Linked DNA regions of Homo sapiens. The protein of the gene in region 5 interacts with the protein of the main gene of each other region in a pairwise test. Each region holds a gene or a part of one and is shown on either strand. Other genes may lie near its edges.

Region 1 (3,500 bases), on a different chromosome or scaffold from region 5:
GTTTTGTTGTAATAATTAAAGGCGAAGTCTCGCTTGCTTTAATGGAGCCATCACACTAATTGAGGGCTACACATCCAAAGGAAAACAATAATGAATGTAAATTTATACCAAAATAAAGTACAGTGAATCAAAGGACTTCAGTTGCGCTTTGGGCCTCTTTCGGTATTTAGATCTCGGTGAGAAAACATTAAATTAACAGAGCTTAATTTGTAGCCTTTTGTCAAATTAACAAGTGTTGACAAGAGTTACCGGGGGGAGAGTCCCCAAGAAGAATTGTGGGTAACCAATAGACAATCACACCTCATTACAATAATTAAAAAATACAGCAACATGCAAAATAGCATCCTCATGAAAGACACACAACTTTTTCTGACAGAGGGTTGTCTGAGTTGGCTATTCCTTTTTATCTAGCCTTCAAATATCTCCCCATCAGCCGAATGGGGCAAATGATCACTGAGAACTATTCGAGGGTTGGCCCCATCTATTTAGAAGAAATGGGTCACAAGCTCATGTTCATGTCTACCGTCCCAATAAAAATAAGAAGAGACAGAGAAACAGAAACTATACCCAGGGTTGGTATTTGGTACAGCTACTACATAATGCAATCTGTTTTTTATTAAAAAAAAAAAAAACAGCATAGAATCTATCTAACTAGAGAAATACGGGTAGAATTGTGGGGTAAGCCACTCCAAAATTTTATCTTCCTTAAGGCTTTGAAAGGCCATCTTCCCTAAGACTCAAACCTGAGTTTTACCAGGATTTATTCCTTTTAGCATTCAATGTATTGTCCTGTGTTGTTCAGAGTACAGATCACTGGTAAGGAGAAATACATCCACAGAAACAATCACGAAACACATATTACACACATGCTCATGCAAAAATATACATACACACAACCTGCCACAGTATGCTAATGCATCAAAGGCCTTTCTACTCTGAATTTAAAACACAGTTTTTTTAAGTTGCAAAAGTTAGTCAAATAATCTGGGCACTGCCAGGAGCTAGGATTGATGCTTACGAAGGCCCCACATGCTGCAGTGACGGTTCCAAATGCCCCATTCCCACCGTTCACAGTTAGGTAAAACATTCAACGTGCAAAGACTCTCAGAGAGATGCTGATTCAGTCCCATGGAGCTTCTCAACAGACAAAACTTTCCACTGTTGTTGTCAACCTTGGGAGTAATGTTCAGGATGAGGTGGGGGGTCCTGGAATCATACAAGAACATGCCCTAATCCCAACCCTGGATTTCAAAACAAGGCCGTTCTTGTTCCTGCTTCTGTGCCCCAAAATATGTAACACCTAAAATGGAGGACTCGACAGCCTCAACCCAATGACATGACTGCAGTTTGGGCAGCCAACAGCAGAAGGGTCATGACCAGCTTCATTGGGTGGAAGTTCCAGTAGTCTTCTGCAATTCCCAAAGGAACTGCAGGGCACCTCTGTCCACAGAGCCTCTGGGGACCATGGTCGCGGAATGCTAAGTGCCAGTAACATAAGCCACCTGAATGGCTGTGGATTTGCCTGTATTCCCACAGGACACCTCAGCAACACCTTTTCTGTGCCCTCCCGCAGCCCCCTCCCCAACCCTGGCTTCTAACACACACACATACACACACACACACACACACACACACACACACACACAGACACACACACAGAATAAATAATAAACATGCCCATGTAAGAAACAAAAAGGAAATTAAAAAATGGAACTCCTTACTGTGGTACTAACCATCCTAGCGGATGGGGGATTTGTCCTACGGTGCCAGGCGATAGTGGGTAATACGGGGATATATCTGGAGGGTGCGGAGGCCGTGGGATTCCTGAGGGAAGAAGCAGCATTTTAGGTACAAAGGAGGGAGAGAAGGAAAGAGCAATCCATTAGGGGATGGGAACAGGGAAAGGAGGAAGAGACGCATCTCTTCTGGAATCCTAGCACAAGGTTCATTCATGATTATAAATCCTGAGTTGTTGGTAGGTTTCATCTCATTTTCCCTCAGCCTCAGTTTGAAAAATTAGTTTATCTCCTTCTAAATGGACTGGTATACTGAGTAGACTCAAGATATGCCATCTTGGGTATTTGTGCCTCATGTGACTGGTGTGATTGTTTCAAGTTTAAAAGAAACAACATCAAAAAGGCTCAGCACCTGGTGGAGAATGAAGCAATGGTAATCCCTGTTGCTCTTACAACTCTGGCCCTTCACCCTGCGGAGTTTCATGCCTTACCTGCACAAGAGCTACTCCTCTGATTTCTAACACACTTTTTGAGCTGTGGCATTTGAAAAGTTACTACCCTTGCCTTTTTTCAAAAATGGTGACTCCTCTAAAATGTCTCTGCCTCTATTTGGATGAGCTGGAGAAACTGATCAAATGCCATCTGGCATCTTATCTAAGGCAGAGTCAGAGCTGAACAGACAAGGAGGTGTTGGAGGCTTGTGTACTCCATTCTGGAACTTCATCCGCTAGAGGACAGAGTCGTCTGTGGGGATTAAGCCCACCTGCTGAATGGGCACCGCGTGCGTCGCAGGGGCTAAGAGCTTCACAAGGCACACATGAGCGGATTCTGCAAGTACGTGCCACCGCACATCTGCCAGTTCCACAGGAGCACATCCTGTAGTCCACTCTGACAGAGAGGAATTGATGTATGCCATTGAAGTGGGAGGCAAAAGGCACAATACCACAGAATTAAAACAGAGTAATGGAGGGAACGGGCTGCATGTTCGTGGACGAAAACGACTTCATTTTTTAAAAAATTCATTCAGGAAGCTTTTAATCTGTAAATTAAGTCTCCCTGGGTGACATTTTCATGCAGACATTGCTTTCTCTCTATTACAAAAACCAAACAGATTAGCTGGGCTTGGACCCTACATCGAGCCATTTGCACACTTGAAAGAATGTTCGCAGAGGAAAAGTAAACAGTCCACAGACGTTAATCATATGTTTTACGATAACCATTTAAAAGCTATTCCCTGTACTACCATTATTTAAATGAGACGTTGACGCTGCCATTCACTGGTGGAGCCTGGGGCCGGCTGGAGGAGGCCACCAGGCATCCAAGCGCCAGGCTCAGTCCTGCACCAGCACAAAGGGGCTCAGAGACCAGTAAAACCCAGCTCATGTGTGGCTTCGTTCAGGGGCAGTGAAGGCCGCCTAACCAGGCAGCCTACCTACCCCAACACTACCAATCCCCTCTAACAAAGTGATGTGCAATCACCACTTTAAACCCATCCTTCCAATTACTGAGCTAGGAAGGGGAAATCCTACCAACACACTGGGTAGCCTGAAAGACACACACTAACCTTACCTGTTCTCCCAAGACCACCCCACCAGGCTGCTGGGGCTGCCTGCCTGATTTAGATCTTGTTGGAGGAGAGCTACAAGTAACCCCACCTTCCCTCCCTCTCCCCTTTGGGAAAAAAGCAGTCAATGAACAACTGGGATAAAAAGGGGATGCTGGGCTGGGTGTGGTGGCTCATGCCTGTAATCCCAGCACTTTGGG
Region 2 (3,160 bases), on a different chromosome or scaffold from region 5:
GAGCTGATAGTGCACAGTGGTCTCAGCTCATTTTCATCCCAAGATACGCTGATCGTTATGCAAAATATGAAGGTCATACGTTAATTACAAGGGTTTGATTTCATCTGAAAATTATACGTCTGTAACAAAATATCATTAAATCAACATTTGGACAGGGTTTCTAATCCCTTCTCCTTAAAACAAAAAGCAACAATCTCTACAGGCAATGATACAGTCCTGATATGTCAGTGTGCTGAGCTGACATCCTAATATAAGGGCGATTATGCAACAGTAATAAAGATAGAAATATGTGCCTACCAACAGGAAGTTAACAGTGCACCCTTGAGAGGGTCCTTTCCATTATTTCATCCACAAGAATGGATAAAATTTCTCTGCGCAATTTAATTCAGTTTGGCTTTTCAACCAAAGCACGCCAAGCAGGCAGAGTGTTAGTGTAAGGATAACAGAAGCTGACATTTTCCAGCACTTCCTATGTGCCAGGCACTGGTCTAAGAGTTTCACACATTTAATGGTTGCAGAAACCTTATAATGAGGTTACTGTTATTAAGTTCCATTTTTAAGATGAAGGATCTGAGGCTCAGAGAGGTTAAGTGGCTTGTACAATTTGTGAGGGACAGAGTCAGGAATTGAACCCAGGCCCGTGTGGCTCCTAAGTCTCCACTATTAGGAAGACAGTATAGGTGAGAACAGGACCATCTGCCACTCAGAAGCATCCTACCTGGCTACCATGGACCTTTGTCATTCAGTCGTTGGTATTTATGTCTGAGTGAGCCCAAGCTTAGCAACCCCTGGACCACGTGCTTACATCACGTACCTGAGCAGTGCCATGTTCACAACACAGAGCCCAGCACATGGATGTCTGTTTTTACTTACTTCTAGGCTATTGTTACAGGTGAGGGTGTCCACACGATTTACATAGCGTGTGTCTATGTTTGTATCATTTTTCTAGGCAGAAGAAAATCAAGACAGCAGTGGTCATTTCAGCAACATACCTCCCTTGGAAAATCCAGAAGACTTTGATATAGTTACTGAAACCAGCTTCCCTATTCCAGGGCAGCCTTGCCCTTCCTTCCCAAAGTCTGATGTTTACAAAGCTACCTGTGACCTAGCCACCTTTCAAGGAGACAAAATGCCACCCTTCCAGAAATACTCAAGCCCAAGAATCTATTTGCCTAGGCCACCTTGCAGCTATGAATTGGCAAACCCTGGTTATACAAATTCAAGCCCATATCCCACCCTTTATAAGGATTCCACCAGTATCCCTAATGACACAGACTGGGTTCATCTGAACACACTACAATGTAATGTCAATTCATACAGCAGCTATGAGAGAAGCTTTGATTTCACCAACAAACAGCATGGCTGGAAACCAGCTCTTGGAAAACCCAGCCTTGTGGAAAGGACTAACCATGGGCAGTTTCAGGCCATGGCCACTCGCCCTTATTATAACCCAGAGCTTCCCTGCAGGTACCTCACGACTCCACCACCAGGTGCCCCTGCCCTACAAACCGTGATCACCACCACCACTAAAGTGTCCTACCAGGCCTACCAGCCCCCTGCTATGAAATACAGTGACAGTGTGCGAGAGGTGAAGAGCCTTTCGAGCTGTAACTATGCTCCTGAAGATACTGGGATGTCTGTCTATCCAGAACCCTGGGGTCCTCCGGTGACAGTCACCAGGGCAGCCTCTCCTTCAGGGCCACCTCCTATGAAAATTGCAGGAGATTGCCGGGCCATCAGACCCACTGTGGCTATTCCCCACGAGCCAGTTTCCTCTAGGACAGATGAAGCAGAGACTTGGGATGTGTGTCTGTCTGGGCTGGGCTCCGCAGTCAGTTACTCAGACAGAGTGGGTCCCTTCTTTACCTACAACAATGAGGATTTTTGAAAGACAATCCAGGGGACATAATAGCAGTGTGCATGCAGGCAGGAGGCAGGGAAATGTGAAATGGCAATGATCTCTTATTGAGTTGGGAGATTCACCTTGTGTGCAAAGAAACACAGATAGTAGTAAAAATTCTGAGTAACTGAGAAAATAATCAGTTGGAAATGATTAGATAATATGGGAAATTTCACACAGCATTTTGAAACTGGCTACAATACATAGAAGTAGTGAGGAAAGTGTGAGTCTCTCAAATGAACAAATAAGCAAACTGTAGGAGGTTAAATACTGACCTAAGTTCACTTAGCTTATTAGCAGGAGTAGAAGTCAAGGATTCTGGTTCTTATTCTAGGACTTTTCCCATTAGAGCACCTTAGGGAATTTCACATCCCTAGAGGCTGCCAAAATAGCTTCAGGAAGAAATTTTTACAATCTTATCACCTGAGTCATTTCATGAAATTTTTGTTTAGCATTTAGAACCTGTTAAACTAGCTTCAGGAAGTAATTTTGATTGTTTTATCTCCAACGTGTGTATCTACAGCTTTTCAAAAAATCTCTAGCAATGGTAAAGTTCAGTTGTTTTTAAAAGATTCAATATTAGCTTTTCATAACATGATAGTTTCCTAACCTTTTCATAACCTTTTCATAACATGATAGTTTCCATAACAGAGACAGCCTAACAATGATGAGTTGTATTTAATGGATTACCATTGTACTAAATACATTTTTTTTCTGATTAGGTTTCAGAATTATAATTAAAATGTTTTGCTGAAATACAGCTTTACGGTTCCTCTGTTATTCTTCATAAAGGTAATTGATAATGTTCAATTAAATGTAATAAGGACATTTTAAATGAAGCTAATTCTTGCCTGACTTCAAAACAGAAATAGGAAAAAAATTGTTCATATTATGACCTGGGAAACAGTTGTTATGAAACATTAAAACTTATTAAATTGGCTGAGAGAGGTGGCTCACGCCTGTAATCCCAACACTTTGGGAGACCAAGGCAGGAGGATTGCTTGAGCCCAGGAGTTTGAGACCAGCCTGGGCAACAGGGAGAGCCCTCATCTCTGGGCAACAGAGAGAGACCCCAGGGCATGGCAGTGGGCCTGTGGTTCTAACTACTTGGGAAGCTGAGGTGGGAGGATCATTTGAACCCACGAGGTCAAGGCTGCAGTCAGCCATCTTTGTGCTACTGCACTCCAGCTTGGGCAACAGAGCAAGACCCTGTCTCAAAAAAATAAATAAATAAATAAATAAATAAAACAAGTATTAAAT
Region 3 (3,500 bases), on a different chromosome or scaffold from region 5:
GTCATGTTACTCATTTGCAACACATTTGCATTTATGTGCTTCTTTGTATTCAATTCTAGTTTCCTGCTATTCTTAGTGATTTATTTTTTGAACTTGTAGAATGTTAGCATGTTCTAAAAGTCAAAAATATACCAAAAAATGAGAATAAACTAATAGAAAGGAAACCACCTCAACATAGTAAAAGCCATATACGACAAGCCCAGCAAACATCACACTCAATGTTAAAAGACTGAAAGCTTTTCCTCCAAGATCAGGAACAAGACAAGAATGCCCATTTTCACCTCTTCTATTCAACACAGTACAGTCATGCGTTGCTCAACGATGACGATACATTCTGGGAAATGTGTCCCTGGGCAATTTCATCATCATATGAACATCATAGAGTGTCCCTCACACAAACTGCACACCTAGGCTATGTGGTGTAGCCTACTTCTCCTAGGCTACAACAAACCTATACAGCATGTGGCTGTACTGAATACTGTAGGCAACTGTAACAGGATGGGAAGCATTTGTGTATCTAACCATATAAAAGGCACAGTCATATACAGTAGTGTTATCTTATGGGACCACTGTCATATAGGTGGTCCATCGTCTGAAAACATCATTATTTGGCCCATGACTGTATTGGAAGTTCCAGGCTGAGCAATTAGGCAAGACCAAAAATAATAAAAGGCATCCAAATTGTAAAGGAAGAAGTAAAATTATGCCTATTTGTAGATGATACGACTTTACATACAGAATAAGAGCTACAAAAATGCTATTTGAGCTAATAAGCAAATTCCACAAGCTTGCAGGTTAGAAAATCAACACACAAAAATGTTACATTTCTGTGCACTAACAGTGGGCAATGTGAAAAGGAAATTTAAAAAACACAATTCCAATTACAACAGCTCGAAAAGAATAAAATACTCAGGAATAGATTTAACTTAAGAGGCAAAAGACTCATACACTAAAAACTAAAAAACATTGCTGAAAGAAATGAAAGGTCTAAATAAATGTTAAGACATCCTGTGTTTATGGACAGGAAGACAATACTGTTAAGATGATGGCCAGTGAGGTGGCTCATGCCTACGATCCCAGGACTGGGGTGGGGGTGGGGAATCCCTTCAGCCCAGGAGTTCAAGACCAGCCTGGGCAACACAAGTGGACCTCCATCTCTACGAAAAAAAATCAAAGAATTAGCCAGGCACGGTAGCGCGTGCCTGTGGTTCCAGCTACTTCAGAGGCTAAGATGGGAGGATAACTTGAGCCCAGGAGGTAGAGGCTTAGCCCAGGAGGTTAAGGCCAGAGGTAGTGAGCCGTGTTTGCACCACTGCACTCCAGCCTGGGTGACAGAGCAAGACCTTAACTCAAAAAAAAAAAAAAAAGTTAATACTACTCAGATCCATCTACCAATTCAATGCAACCTCTACTAAAATCCCAGTGACATTTTTGCATAGCAATTTGTGGCTACTGACACCTGAAATGAAGCCAGTGAAGGGGAGGAAGTGAATCTTTAATTTCTTTTAATTTTAATTAATTTTAACTTATATAGCTGTGTGTGCCTGGTGGCTACTATATTCCACAGCACAAGCCTACAATGAGGAGTTCAGGCCTAAACATTTCCTTATTTTAACTGCCCATTGTGTTAACTATCCCTCCAGGAGGGTGTGGAAACCATTAGGCTAGGAGTATTTGGGATTTAGGGGAACCCTCCCCCACTCCAGGAGGACTTGAAGCAGCCGCCACATTCTCCTCTGATAACATCTAGAAAGTGACAGAGTGCTTACTGAAGCTCATTCCAGCGACAATTAAAGACATACACACCACTTCCCACTAGAACTTAAGGATTTCTAGAGGACCAAGCTACTTAGTCGAATTAAGCTACATTTTTCTGTAATTATTTCCTTCCCTTTAGCTTTTGAGTTTTTTGCTTTTTTCAGAGATAGGACTTAAAAAGAAAACACCCACAGAAATCCCAAAAACAGTGCCAACCACACCAATAAAATTCCCTATTTTGTAAAAGCTTTATGAAAATTCCCAACACTGTTCAACAATTCTTTGGCCACTCTACGAATATGATTTTAAACAGATTACACCCCAGACATATTTTATGACAACTGCACACGCAAGCAAAGCTGTCCCGCCCTCGTTTCCAACTTGGCAAGCTCTTCAACAAAACCAAATAAATACATGCTAGAAAAAGGCGGCTGCTACAAAACCCCGGCCAGTTGCAGCTATAATTAATGGGCTGGAGCGCCTCTTGTTGCTTGGATTTTTACTTTCAAAACTCAAGAAGCCCACACTACCCACTGAAAGCCTCAACAGTGTTATGGTGGTGTTGTGGGGCAAAGCAGAACCTAAGAGCCCAAAGGGTCACTGAGAAGTAATGTTTTCAAAGCCAGTCCCTTCAACCCAACAGTCCCTTCATGAAATTGCTATTGGCCATGCAGCTGGGGTGCAACCAATAAAAATCCAGACCTAGCTAGCAATGCTTCCACTGCAAAACAAAGCCCCCTGGTTTCTTTACTTTGAAACCTTACATGCTTGGTATTCTCCACTTGGTGGTCACCACGGGGCTCCCAAAAAGGAAATATCCTAATGACAATGTATGGAGTCACAACCAATGGGCAAGAGCAAGGAAGAGCCCGCCCCGAGGAGCCCCCAAGGAGGCACCTCAAGGTAAACCCAAAATTGGGCTGCCCAGCCCTTCACCACGTGGAAACCACAAGACGCTGATGGGGTGTGGAAGAGGAGGAGGAGGGAGTCCTTCACAGTGTCCCCTCCAGGTTCCCAGGGAATGAACCAGATAAACACCAAAAGGAAAGGCCTGTCATCAAGGAACCATTTTAGAAGATGGTTATAAACCCTGGGAAGGAGTAACAGTTTGTAGCGTTAACTTTCTTTTCCCTGACTACAATGTGGAATTATATAATTAGAACTCTCCAAGGGAAAGGATTACAAAGAGTACACAAATTTCCAGCACTACAACAGACTAGCCAGGTCCTGCAGATTAGGGAGCTCAAGTCCTTCACATCCAGTTCCCATTTCACTAATAACTTTTCCCATCCTGGCCTCTCAGGGAATGCATTTTAAAGGAGTGCCAGTCCACCAGCTGAAACCTTTCTAAAGGGGATTAATCTTCCCTACCTGTCAGATGAGCTGTTCGTACCCCTGTATTTCTATTCCACTGATTTCAGAAGAGCTTCCAAAGAAAAGAGCAGTGTAAAATTCAGACTCTGCCAGACTTAATCTCTTGGAGGTTAAATCCAGGCTAACTGTTTAAGGGGCAACAAGTGATTCACTGCAAACCACACTTAAGAGAGAGACATACAAACACCAATTACAGCAGCACTTTGAATAAACAATAAAAAAAAGGTTTCACAATAAAAATAAAAATGTTGTTTAACATTGCCTTAAAAATCTGCAGAGCAGTCACCAAAAACTACCCCTGGAAAACGCACATTTTAAAAAACCCATGTTGCTTTTTTACATATAAAATATAAAGCAGACTTGTCAGT
Region 4 (2,517 bases), on a different chromosome or scaffold from region 5:
TACAACAGAATGACAGGAGTCACCTCCTTATGTCCCAACTCATATAAAGCTTAAAATATCTATAACCAGACAAATCTTTCAGATAAAAAAGGTCAGGAAGCACAGAAGGAACCTGAAGTTGATAATTTGGGTGTCCCTACATTTGTTTAGTGTCATCTGATTTAAATCCAATTGTTCTTATTGACATTCTCATGATCCATAGAGAAAAAACCTATCAGTGGCCTATCTGCTAGCTAAAGTCAGATAAGACACATTGCCAGAGCTTGAAACTTTCTCATATGTTAAAGGATTATGGAAGACAACAAGGGAACAAGGAATGTTTAACACAGAATAAATAGGTAAATAGTCTTAAAAGTGCTTTTTTAAGGCAGTCTAAGAAGGGACTCAAGTGTTAAATGTGAGAAGCCTGTTACAAATATAGTATTAACCATCTGGTTCAATATAATGTGGATTGAGTGGTACCTGCATGACCACTGAAAGGATCACACCCCACTTCTAAAGACTGTTCATCTTTTTATTGAATATTCTGGTAAATATTTCACATTAATACAGGCTACATTACGTAGAGCCACTATATGACAAGAAATTTACTCAACTTTTTCCTTTTAAGTATGTAAACAATTATACATGTATTTATCACCCTAAAAGGTTGAAACATGTAATCAACTAATTCTCTTCTGCATACAAGTAGTATTCTGTATGTTTAGCCAAAAGCACTAAGGTCATATGATCTTAAGTTCAAAATGGCTAAACTAACCAGAGAACATAATCAGGTGGATAGGAAATCAATTTGTTCTTATACAATGGGCAATCAAATTTCCATTGCTAAAGCCTCAGAGAAAATTTCTTAGGCACATTAAAAAAAAATCCCCATGGTTCTTCCAAGGTCATAGGTTTCTTAAACAAGGCTAAAGAGTAAAGACCTTCTAACTTAGTTGACATATTTGAGATGCATGTTTCCAATATGAGGTGCCCACGTGCCAGGCCAAATCTGAAAAGGGGGAGGAAAAATTGGAATTTCTAATTAGGAATCTTTAGACAGTTACAAAATGAATATATAAATGCAATGGCAATTCACTGTTTCTGCCTAGGAAGAATACACATATATTAAATAAAGTGTTCAGTAGCATCATCTTGATATTGAAAAAGCAATCCAGATCGAAATGGTCAATTATGACTTTTGATATTCAGTACTTATACTTCTCACAAAACAAAAAGAATGATGTGACAAATCTAAAAAACAAAAGAGCATTAAGCCCATTTTACCTGCTGGGCATCAGTGCATTCAGTTGAATTTTGGATAACTTTTATCATAGGGTTCCAAGCAGGATCTGGATTGTGAAGTCCATTAAACAGAGGGCCTCCTGGAACATCAGCAAGCTGAGGATGAGAGGGTATTATGGTGCCTCCATACATGGAAATTGGCAGACCCTAAAACAGCAGGAAAAAAGATTTAATCTTAAAATTACTATAAATTATAAAATTACTATAAATCCCATAATACCAGCTTAGACTTCTCTAATATTCCTCATTTAAAGAACTCCAAAAGATCCTATAAGTACAGTATGGCAGTGTTGAGAAAACAAAATGTTTATCTGCATCTGCAAAGCTTTTCAACAAAAAACAAGAGAGAGAAAGAAACTAAATCCAATATGAAATCATCAGGAAATTTCTCATATTTGATAAAAATAACCTCAACTTTCCCATATTTTAGTTTCATGAATAAGCTTGAGCTAAGAAGAAAATGGGAACTCTACATAATTGATTGCCGACATAAAGCTGTCAGAGCAGACAAGAAAGCATCAGTGAACTCATGGCCAGCTTTTAAGAGGGGTAGAGGCCTCCCTCAAAGCTGTAGTAGCAGAGCACAAAGTGGCAAAACCCAAATCCCTCAGGTGTTTTCGGGGGATGGGGACATCTTCAGGACAAACTACTGTGGACAACTCTGTGCACTCCTGAAATTAAGCAAAAGATCTAGCAAAGCCACAGAAACAAAAGGGAGCATTATTTCAATACAAGGTATTCCTTAATGTGACTACATTGGCTGACAAAGTGTCAATCAAGTTACAGTGATGTTTGTCAACTCACTTTAGAAAAATCCACAAAACCACTTGCCATAGGCTGATGAAAAATGTTAGAGGGGGCTACCATTCCAGAATCATCTCTCTCCATTGGCTGATGTTGGGAGAATGTGCTTGGGTCTGATAATTGTTGATGCATTGGATGGTTCCCCATCACAGATTGCGACCAACCTGATAAGCCTTCTGGAAAGAATAATTGAAAACAAAGTTTTAAATTTATTTGGATAAAACAACAAAACATTACCATTGTTATTACCAAACATGACCAAATGTTACTGAAATCTTTCCTCTGAAGAGCTCAAAGCGTATTTATCACAGTCTTGCTAGCCAAAAAAAACCAGTTCCTGAAAAACTAGGTAAAGTCCTCTGAATACTCCACTTTACCCTGTCTTTTAAAAGATTAAGTACTCTCTGAAAGAACTCAAATGATTATTTA
Region 5 (3,500 bases):
ATCACTAATAGGAATAAAAAAAACACTGCATATTACTGGCCAGGCGTGGTTGCTCACCCCTGAAATCCCAACACTTCGGGTGGCTGAGGCGGGTGGATGGCGAGGTCAGGAGATCGAGACCATCCTGGCTGACGGTGAAACCCTGTCTCTACCGAAAATACAAAAAAAATTAGCCGGGCGTGGTGGCGGGGGCCTATAGTCCCAGCTACTTGGGAGGCTGAGGCAGGAGAATGGTGTGAACCGGGAGGCAGAGCTTGCAGTGAGCTGAGATCGCACCACTGCACTCCAGCCTGGGCGACAGAGCGAGACTCCATCTCAAATAAATAAATAAATAAATAAATAAATAAAAATAAAAATAAAACACTGCATATTACTAAAAGCCCACCAAAAAGCTGTAATAATTACAAACAGTATGGATCTACCAAACAGGAACTGGTAAATCCTCCTCTGGAGTGAGTTTTTTTTTTTTTAGACGGAGTCTTACTCTGTCGCCCAGGCTAGAGTACAGTGGCGCGATCTTGGCTCACTGCAAGCTCTGCCTCCCGGGTTCACGCCATTCTCCTGCCTCAGCCTCCCAAGTAGCTGGGACCACAGGTGCGTTTAATTTTTTTTGTATTTTTAGTAGAGACGGAGTTTCACCGTGCTGGCCAGGATGGTCTTGATCTCCTGACCTTGTGATCTGCCCGCCTTGGCCTCCCAAAGTGCTGGGATTACAGGCAGGAGCCACCATGACCAGTCGAGATTTTTAACATACTTCCCTCAGAAACAAGTGGGTCAAGTAAACAATCTCATGCTTAAAACATAGAGAACACACATTGTTTTCAACATACTGAACATTACCAAAAAAAACAAAGCAACAGAGAAAGTTTCAACAAATCCCAAAAGAATATATCATTTGGCAAAACAATTTCTATCCATATTGTTGTTATATTAGAAATATATGAAAAGTAACCCTCTCCCCAGAGACATATAGAAATGGAAACTAAAGTGGAAATAGAACCAAGCCTACCTAAAGAAAATTGTGCATCCTTAATAGACTCATTTTAACAGGAAAGCCTGAAATAAATAAGTATTCAGCAAGAAATCAAATGCAGGCTGTGGCTCACGTCTATAATCCCAGCACTTTGGGAGGCCGAGGCGGGTGGATCACTTGAGGTCAGGAGTTCGAGACCAGCCTGGCCAACATGGTGAAACCCCATCTCTCCTAAAAAATACACAACTTGGGGCTGGGCGCAGTGGCTCACGCCTGTAATCCCAGCACTTTGGGAGGCTGAGGCGGGTGGATCACGAGGTCAAGAGATCAAGACCATCCTGGCCAACTTGGTGAAACCCCGTCTCTACTAAAAATATAAAAATTAGCTGGGCATGGTGGTGGGCACCTGTAATCCCAGCTACTCGGGAGGCTGAGGCAGGAGAATCACTGGAAACTGGGAGGCAGAGGTTACAGTGAGCCGAGATCGCACCACTGCACTCCAGCCTGGCCACAGAGTGAGACTCCGACACAAAACAAAACAAAACAAAACTTAGCCGGGCATGGTGGCGTGAACCTGTAATCCCAGTAACTTGGGAGACTGGGGCAGGAGGATCACTTGAATTCGGGAGGTGGAGGTTGCAGTGAGTTGAGATTACATCACTGCACATTCCAGTCTGGGCGACAGAGTGAGACTCTGTCCAAAAACAAAAAACAAAAAACAAAAGAAAAGAAATCAGATACAGAATAAGAAAGTAACTCAAGGAGGGCCGGGCACGGTGGCTCACGGCTGTAATCCCAGCACTTTGGGAGGCCAGGGCAGGTGGATCTCTTGAGCCCAGGAGTTCAAGACCAGCCTGTGCAACATGGCAAAACCCCTCTCTACAAAAAATACAAAAATTAGCCAGGCATGGTGGCATGTGCCTGTAGTCCCAGCTACTTGGGAGGCTGAGGTGGGAGGATCGCTTGAGCCCAGGAGGCAGAAGCTGCAGTGAATCAAGATCGTACCACTGCACTCCAGCTGGGGTGACAGAGACAGAACCAAAGCCTATCTCAAAAAAAAAAAAAAAAAAAAAAAAAAAAAAAAAGAAAAGAAAATAGATGGAAAAGTAGAAAAGGAAATGTTATCAGGAACAAAAAAGGAAAGAGTGTATATTTAGGGCAATTTGAATCTATGCTCCCAGGTTAAAATAAAACCATTTTAAATAGATTAAAAAAAAAGAGCAAAAGGCCAGGTGTGGTTGGCTCATGCCTGTAATCCCCATACTTTGGGAGGCCAAGGCGGGAAGATGGCTTGAACCCAGGAGTTCAAGCTCAGCCTGTCTCTACAAAAAATAAAAAAAATTAGCACGGATTGGTGGCACATGCCTGTAGTCCCAGCTACTTGGGAGGCTGAGGTGGGAGGATCACTTGACCCTGGGAAGCATAGCAGTAGTTCTCAGAGTGTGGCTCAGGGACCCTGGGGTTCCATGCATTCAAGTTTGTGTTCGCAACACTAAGAGGACACATTAGAAGCACTTGTAGTAGATTCAGTGACAAGAGAGGGACGTTCCCTCACCCTGCTGCTATTCAACATCCTAGCCAAAGCAGTAAGTTACAGAAAAAAGAAATATAAGCTACAAGGATCAGAAGAAAAAAGACAAAATCATCATTCTTTGAGAATGATAAAAATAATCTACATAGAAAATCCAAGAGTTATCAATCCACTGTTGGAATGACAGGAGTTCCACAGCATTGCCATATACAAGGTCAACAGAGAATAATTAATACCACTTCTATTTGTCAGCAATCAGCAACCGAAAACTGACCATTCACAATAGCTACAAAAACTATACAGTACATTAAGTCTTAAAAAAAGATATGTATGTAATGAACAACATTATAAAACTTTATTGAAGTACCTTAGAAAGGTCTATGGAGAAACAGACAATGTTTCTAAATAGGAGGGCTCAATAACATAAAGATATCAATTATCCCCAAGTTAAATTTATTTTGTGCAATTATAATAAACATTTCAACAGGACATGATATCTGACCAAAATGACTCCAAATATCACATGAAATAGTAACGATCTAAGATTAGCCAAGGCAGTGTGGCCAGGCGCAGTGGCTCACGCCTATAATCCCAGCACTTTGGGAGGCCAAGGCGGGAGGATCACGAGGTCAGATCGAGACCATCCTGGCTAACATGGTGAAACCCCATCTCTACTAACAATATAAAATTAGCCCGGCCATGGTGGCAGGCGCCTGTAGTCCCAGCTACTCGGGAGGCTGAGGCAGGAGAATGGCGCGAACCCGGGAGGCGGAGGTTACAGTGAGCCGAGATCACACCACTGCACTCCATCGTGGGTGACAGAGCGAGACTACGTCTCCAGAAAAAAAAAAAAAAAGATTAGCTAAGGCAATACCAAAAAAACAACCAAAGGAGGCAAGGGTGTGCCCTACTAGATATCAAGACTTAGGCTATGGTAATGGAAAGTGAAGTTTAAGTATAGGAAAAAAGATAATGGAAGACATCTATGGATATGTT
Region 6 (3,500 bases), on a different chromosome or scaffold from region 5:
CAGGTAGACGGGCCCCTTGCTGCTCATGCAGCGGAAGGCGCTGTCCAGGCGCTTGTTGCCGTGCTCTGTGCTACACCAGATGGAGTACTTAATGGAGCGGTGGATGTCGTCCTCAGAGTAGCTCTTGATGATGAACACACGCCCGCTTTTCAGATTCCACTCAAACTCTTTCGGGTTGTAGCTGTGAGCAGCCTTCAGTTTTTCAAGGACGGGGTGGGATTCGACGCTGGGGGCAGAATTAGGCTGGACGTTTCCAGGAGAGTTGCTATCGCTGCCAGCCCCTCCGCTCTGCCCAAACGCCGCGTTTCTGTTGCGTGGGGCAACCCAGCGGGTCTGGGGTGGCTGCTGAGGGCTCTGATACTGCGGTTGAGCCAAAGCTGGGGGCTGTGCTGGGAGAGGCTGAGCCACCTGCTGGGGCTGTGGGGCAGCCTGTGGAGAGGGTGCCTGCTGGGGGACTGGGGCCTTCGGCACAGGCCCCTTGTTATCCCAGGTGCCAATGTCCATGTTATGCTTTATGGGTGGAGGGGGCAGCCCACCCCCCATGACAGGCCCGCTCTTTGTTTTCATTTTAGGCTGTGGTTTTGCAGGCTTGCTGGCAATGGCAGCCCACGAGGTCGGCTTTGAAACTGGCATGTTCACATTTGTCCCACCGTTGCCAGAAAGGACACCAGTCAGTGCCACGCTGCTGACGACAGAGCCCACCGTCTTGACGGCGGAGGAGCTGACGTCCCCAATCTTCAGGCCAACCATGCCCTGCTCCAGGCTGTTCATCCCGGGGGCCTTGCTGAGGGTGTCGCTGTGAAAGCCTGGCTGCCCATCAACCACCGTGCCACCCAGGGAGCTCGGGGGGTAGGTGTAGCTGCTCCCATACGCGGAGCTCTGGGTCTGCTGACCTTGAGACCCACTTGTCCCCCATGCTGAGAACGCAGGGTTTTCAGGGAAAAAATTGAACCTGTGCTGATAGATGTTGTTCCCCAGGCCCCCAGGCTGCCCAAAAACAGCATCGTGCATAAAATGATGGTCTCCGTTACTGAGCTGTCCGTAGGTGGTGAGGTATGGAATCGGAGGGTCCCCTGCAGTAGACCACGGAGCCTCATTGAGGGAGTAAGGAAATCCAATGGACGGCGGGTAATAGCTGGACAGGTAGGGGTCGCTCATTGAGGGGTAACTGTTACTCTGCAAAAGCAAACGTGACAAGTTACACCACTTCTACAACACGAGATGCTGAGAATGCCAACCGCCTCTTGCTTAAGCACAGGTGGAGCAAAAACAAAACCTGCACAGCATGGGGCTACTCCTTCCAGAAAGAAAGCTGTAGTCGCCAATGTGAGAACCAAATCAAGACAGAGAAATTAATAACGAACACAAACCAGGGTGCCGTCTCAAAATACGAAGCATCATTGGCAAGGCTCTGAATTCAGGCTAAATGACGAAGCTATGCCTCTCTAGAACTGGCAAGGTAGCAGCCCCCTCTACTCTTACCTGCAAAGGAATCCAGAGGTAGAGGAGTAAACCCCTGCCTGCTGACGACAACGCTTATGACAGACACGGACGGCATCATGGGAACTGAAACAGCTTTGTAAGGCAGAGATATTTCCATTGGCAAACCAGGATGTGCAGGGCCGTGAGGCAGTTTGCTCCAGAGAACAGACCCCAAGCTCGCTGATTACTCAGCAGGCCCTGGGCGCCCACCTCTGGGCCTTGACATTCCTCCTGGGACACTCTCCCATACCTGGACCAAAGCTCTCCCAGAATCCTTCAAGGGTGCTTCAGAGGCTCCTTCCACACACCCTTCCTAGCAGATGGCCCCTGCCTCTAAGTCCAAGGGGGTTCACATTCCCATGATTTCCTGGGCACAGCGTTGGGCTCTTGCAGTAGGCCCCTGCACAGAGGGCCCTGGCTGGCTCCAGCTCCTCAGCCAAGAGAAAGCATCCGAAGTGTGGACTCTGTGCTCCGGGTGCAGAGCAGCCCTCACTCTGGATGCCAACTCACCTGGGCTTCCTTATGAAAACATGTCTGTGTAGTGACTGGAACCTCAGAGAGTGGTTTTAAAGTGACGGAACCATGAGGCAAAAAGGTCTGCTAGAGAAGGTGAGTGCCTGAGTGCCCCATCGTAGGGGTCTCTGAAGAGCTGCCCAGGGCACAAATTTAGACTGAGGGTCAGCAGTTCTGGGACGGCATCTCCTTGGAGAGACTCAACTAAGGGTCTGGTCATGATTGGGTCCCTCCAACACTGCCTTAAAATGACTTTCGTGTGAGGTGTGTCTGTATGTGTGTGCGCACACACACCTGTACACAGGCCGGTGAGACGGGGTCCAGTGTGAGGTAAGAAGGCTCCCACCTAGACGCATCGTCTGAGAGTGCCAAGATGCTATTACAGAAAACAGAGCCGGAAGTAAAACACGGGGCTCTCCAGTCTGTGACGCCCGTTTTTGGATTTTTAGTTTTCCCGCTCCCCGCCCCCCAGTCCCCCAAGTAACCAGAAGGTTCTACATAAAGAGAATATGCTCCAGACCTCATCTCACAACCTCATCCCTGCCACATTGACCTTTCATGTTGGCATCAAAGGCTACACTATGAAGGATAACAGCACCCAGTCGGGGACACCAGGTGGGAAAGTAGCTGAGGCAATGAGGGAGACTGTGGGATCCCAGACAATGAAACAGGCCTGCTTCACTGGAGGGGTGACCACAAGCAGCTCTCCCTGGGGGCAGTGCCCCAACACCAGCCAACACTGGTGGACTAATGAACCAATGACCCGGCCACCACTTCCTGCCTCCTGCTCCCATCCTAGAATACTGAGGGCTTCAGAAATCCAATTTATTTTCTAATTTTCTTCCTGTTGACTTCTCCACTTGTGAGCAGACAATTCCAGAACCCCCCCCTTTTTTTTTTGGGACGAAGTCTCACTTTGTCGCCCAGGCTGCAGTGCAGTGGCACGATCTCAGCTCACTGCAACCTCCGCCTCCCAGGTTCAAGCGATTCTCATGCCTCAGCCTCCCAAGTAGCTGGGATTACAGACACCCACCACCACACCCGGTTAATTTTTGTATTTTTAGTAGAGACAGGATTTCATCATCTTTGCCAGGCTGGTCTCGAACTCCCAACCTCAGGTGATCCACCCGCCTCGGCCTCCCAAAGTGCTGGAATTACAGGCATGAGCCACAGCGCCTGGCCCCAGAATCATCTTTTAAAATGCACTAACTGCTGTTTCCCCGTAATATAAATTTGAGATTCTGGGGGTATAAGAAGACAAGTGGGATGCTATCAGTGTTCCACAAACATGAGATTAATCTGAGCTTATTCTCCCTCAAAACAGTTTCCATGATGCTGGCTCCTTTGCTGCAGCCTTTCCCTCGGGTGCTGCCCTGGCCAACAGGCCCAGACTGGGGGGGTGAGCGAATCAGGGGGGCGGTCTGTGCACAGGACTTGCTCCTCGAGTCACTGGCCGCAGGTGCCTTCAAGGACGGCAGGCAAGGGGACAGTCCCCCCCACAGGGA
Region 7 (3,500 bases), on a different chromosome or scaffold from region 5:
ACCATTCTTAAGTGTCAACACCCAGCAGAAAATACAAAATACAAATGTCACCACCACAATACCCACCTCAAATCACCAAATTGGGTAAAGTGTAACATGGATTAAGGAATGCTTTTGTGAACTCGTGGCTGATGGGATTGGAACTTATATGCCCTGTTTTGTTTACTTTTGGAAACTTTAACCACATTTTACTTTTTTATAAAAGTGATGTATTCATTTTCAGAAAACCTCAGTGAATCAGTATCCATAGGCAAACTAGCTACCGATGGAACTACTACTAATATTTTGATGCATTCTTTGTAACTTTGCTTCTAGTATACATGGTTAAATAAAAATCTGATCATAATTATACATACTAACTCATACTCTATTTTTACTGAGAAATATGGCATGAACTACTTCCCGTATTTACAAATATTCTTTCCTAATAACAGTTGCCACCTGGTACTTTATTTCATCTATGGATTGCAACCTATTTTACTCAGTTACTATTGTTGGTATTTGGGATACTGATTTTTTTTTTTTTTTTACAAAGAACGCTCCAGCAAACGTACTCTGAGTTAAAACTTTATGTACGCTTTTGATACCATCCTTAAATTCTCAGAATTTCTGGACAAAAGCATACATGTGCTTTGATTAGATGAGGCTCTAATCGTTTCATTCCCATAACTGCACTTAAGAGTCCCAGATCCTCAAACTCTTGATTTTAGGAGTGTAAAAATGGTCTATTTTTACATGTTTTTTTATATAAAACAACAGGGTCTCACAATTTTAATTCACTTCATTTCAGTTGTTAGTAAGCCTGCATTTTTTTCAAGATTTTTAGCCATTTAAATCACATTGATTGATAAAACACTTTATATATTAAATGTTGCAAATATTCTCTCCCCATTTAACAGTCATCTCTTAGATTTTCTTTACAGCATTTTCTAATCTATAAGAAGTTATTTTTATAAAGCTAAACCTATTGGTTTTTCCTTTCTATTTCTGTTTAGAAAGTTCTCTTTCCTCATTTCAAGGTTAATATTCATCTACATTTTTTTTCTATATTTCCTAGGGTACATTTAAATCTTTACTTCTTCTAGAAAGTATCTTCATCTGTGTGAAGGCAAAACTATTATTTTCCTCCCAAATAATTGTCAAGTGTTCCTAGCACTATGTCTTGACTCCTCCCATCATCCCTTTGTTAATTTGACACGCTTATTGTGTGTGAAATTATTTTATATACTGGGAACTGTCTCTGGACTTCCTAATTTGCTTCATTGGTGTGTGTGTGTGTGTGTATCCTGGTATCACACTGTTTTAATTATTGAAGTTTTGTGGTATTGATAACTTGTCCACAAGGACATGTACAGGGAATTTTCTGAGGAAGAAACACAAACCAGCAATAAACATGTGACAAGATGTTTGACCTCACTAGTAATCAGGGAAGTACACATTAAAACAATGAGATGACATTTTTTACCCATAAGATTGGAAAAGAACAAAAACAACATTAAAGACTGAGAATATCCAACATCGATGAGAATATATGATAAACAGACTCATATTCTATTGGCAAGAGTATAAACTGACACCACTTTTTAGGAAAATGGGCACTACCGATTGTGATTCTAAATGCCAATCCTCAAAGGTTTCACAATTCCATTATCTAACCTACACAATAGTCCCAAATGTGCAAAATGACAAATATGTATCTTTATGTATATTTTTGTATCCTGACACAGTATGATCCTAATTATGTAATTAAAACCCCCAAACAATAATTCTGTGTCAGATGACTGTATTAGAATGTGCTTACATGACACACAGAAATAGTGTGGAAGGATTGGGCCCAGGGTGGTGGGGCAGGATCCTAGTGTTTAAATGCTTTACAATTGGAATGTACTTGTGTATTATTTGTATAATTTAAAGTTTTTTACTAACTAGCAAAACAAAGCCTCCATTTTTACCCCGATTTTTCAGACTGGTTTAGGCTGGACAAGCTGATTGATTCTTCCAGATTCATTTTCATCAAATTCTCTTCCTCTGCAACCACCTTCCCATCTCCTCCAAAAAGACCCACAGAAAGTTTGCTGGGAATTATATAAACAATGTATGGGTTTGAGGGGAATGTGCTGTTTTGATGAAGACTAAAAGTAAAATCTGTGGTTAGGGCATGAATTATACGTAAATGAAAACTGGGTTCTAAGAGAGTCTGAAGAGACTTCGTTGTATCAGCTAAACATTCCCTCTGTCAACTTCTAACACCATCAATTTGCTCCGCAAATTCTCTCTTCAGGGAAAGTTTCTGCTCAACCCCTGATCAAAGCTACCACGATGGCCTGAGTATTAGCTTCTGAATTATTCAAGGTTTCTCTGTACAATAAGGGCAAGAGGAACCACCGAGTCTTCCAAACAGAAACGGCCCACCATGGGTGCTAGAAGCTGGCAAGCCTCCAGACGCAGGGCCAGGCCCTTGGCAGCCTTAATTCCCACCACAACTAGGAGCACGCAGGCTGGCCTGTAGCATGAGGAGGGAGCTGGGGGTCTTCCTCCCCAGGGATGTCGCACCTCCCCTTCCAGGGAAACAAAACCCAAACACCTCTATGCTCAATTGCAGGAAATAGATATTTGGTATCTGATTTACCCATGAGAAGGAATACACACAAGAGGTTCAGATGCCCTCTCGTGTTATATAACAATGCAACAGGTCCCCGCTGAAAGACAGTGGGAATTTGTACTGAGATCCAGAGAAACGGGCCAATCCCTCCCTTCCCCCAATTCTGTGCTCTGTGGGTACCAGAGGCTCAGAGAATGGCACAGCTGTCCTGTTCTCCACATTTGAATAGGCCGGACTCAGTTTTCTCTGAGTTTTTGGTATTCTCTGGTCACACATTTGCACAGGCTGCCAGAGGGGGTTATTTTGTACTTCATTGGCAAATGTCACTTCCCATGGACTTACATTTTTGTTCAAGAACTTGCCCTGGTACCTGTGGTTCAGGTGAATGAGCTCGGCCGTGCCCTCCTGCTGTCCGTTCACCCAGGTGCCAACATACTTACTGCCCGTCTCCGCGTATAAATAGGTGCCTTGCCCATGCCTGGTTAAGACAAGGGGAACATGGTATTTCGTTCCAGCACAGTGAAAAATCTCCCAGGTTTAAAACACAGACATTGACATTGAGGGAGGCCCAGGCTGTTGCAGGCTCACAAGCGATGTAGCTTCTATATCTGTGTCCAGTCAGAAGGTGCCCCTTGCTCAGTGTGCCCCAAGCACAGGACATTGCCAGAGGCACAGAGGACAGGCCAGCTGGACAGAGGCAAGCCTCCTGTGTGTCAGCTGCTTTCCCCAGGGAAGAGGCAGAGCTAGTGGGAGCTGTGGCTCAGGTCCCCCAGTGGCTCTTCTGTGCCCTCCACTCCCTGGGACTCTTGGGTGAAAGACTCACGTGCTCTGCCCCAACTGAGGTGCAGATGTCAGATACTTGAGTCTACACTTGCACAGAAAGGCATCCTTGCCTCAA

The links.
Region 1: the proteins of ZNF34 (region 5) and TCF7L2 interact in a two-hybrid assay, tested with the Homo sapiens proteins (one large-scale study listed by BioGRID).
Region 2: the proteins of ZNF34 (region 5) and GCM2 interact in a two-hybrid assay, tested with the Homo sapiens proteins (one large-scale study listed by BioGRID).
Region 3: the proteins of ZNF34 (region 5) and ROR2 interact in a two-hybrid assay, tested with the Homo sapiens proteins (one large-scale study listed by BioGRID).
Region 4: the proteins of ZNF34 (region 5) and ANKHD1 interact in a two-hybrid assay, tested with the Homo sapiens proteins (one large-scale study listed by BioGRID).
Region 6: the proteins of ZNF34 (region 5) and YTHDF1 interact in a two-hybrid assay, tested with the Homo sapiens proteins (one large-scale study listed by BioGRID).
Region 7: the proteins of ZNF34 (region 5) and RSPH1 interact in a two-hybrid assay, tested with the Homo sapiens proteins (one large-scale study listed by BioGRID and IntAct).

The regions. Positions count from the first base shown.
Region 1 is NC_000010.11:113,142,247-113,145,746, reverse strand, and holds part of TCF7L2 (transcription factor 7-like 2), read right to left. Parts: intron 1,825-3,500; coding exon 1,722-1,824; intron 1-1,721. UniProt on the Homo sapiens protein: Participates in the Wnt signaling pathway and modulates MYC expression by binding to its promoter in a sequence-specific manner. Acts as a repressor in the absence of CTNNB1, and as activator in its presence.
Region 2 is NC_000006.12:10,872,723-10,875,882, reverse strand, and holds the end of GCM2 (chorion-specific transcription factor GCMb), read left to right. Parts: intron 1-949; coding exon 950-1,888; 3' UTR 1,889-2,660; downstream 2,661-3,160. UniProt on the Homo sapiens protein: Transcription factor that binds specific sequences on gene promoters and activate their transcription. Through the regulation of gene transcription, may play a role in parathyroid gland development.
Region 3 is NC_000009.12:91,943,729-91,947,228, forward strand, and holds part of ROR2 (tyrosine-protein kinase transmembrane receptor ROR2 isoform 1 precursor), read right to left. Parts: intron 1-3,500. UniProt on the Homo sapiens protein: Tyrosine-protein kinase receptor which may be involved in the early formation of the chondrocytes. It seems to be required for cartilage and growth plate development. Phosphorylates YWHAB, leading to induction of osteogenesis and bone formation.
Region 4 is NC_000005.10:140,537,833-140,540,349, reverse strand, and holds the end of ANKHD1 (ankyrin repeat and KH domain-containing protein 1), read right to left. Parts: intron 2,265-2,517; coding exon 2,089-2,264; intron 1,432-2,088; coding exon 1,267-1,431; intron 992-1,266; coding exon 932-991; 3' UTR 501-931; downstream 1-500. Other genes in the region: ANKHD1-EIF4EBP3 protein, read right to left, coding at 1,267-1,431, 2,089-2,264. UniProt on the Homo sapiens protein: May play a role as a scaffolding protein that may be associated with the abnormal phenotype of leukemia cells. Isoform 2 may possess an antiapoptotic effect and protect cells during normal cell survival through its regulation of caspases.
Region 5 is NC_000008.11:144,780,818-144,784,317, forward strand, and holds part of ZNF34 (zinc finger protein 34), read right to left. Parts: intron 1,057-3,500; exon of another isoform or gene 1,010-1,056; intron 149-1,009; exon of another isoform or gene 58-148; intron 1-57. UniProt on the Homo sapiens protein: May be involved in transcriptional regulation.
Region 6 is NC_000020.11:63,202,632-63,206,131, forward strand, and holds part of YTHDF1 (YTH domain-containing family protein 1), read right to left. Parts: intron 1,177-3,500; coding exon 1-1,176.
Region 7 is NC_000021.9:42,482,725-42,486,224, forward strand, and holds part of RSPH1 (radial spoke head 1 homolog), read right to left. Parts: intron 3,081-3,500; coding exon 2,945-3,080; intron 1-2,944.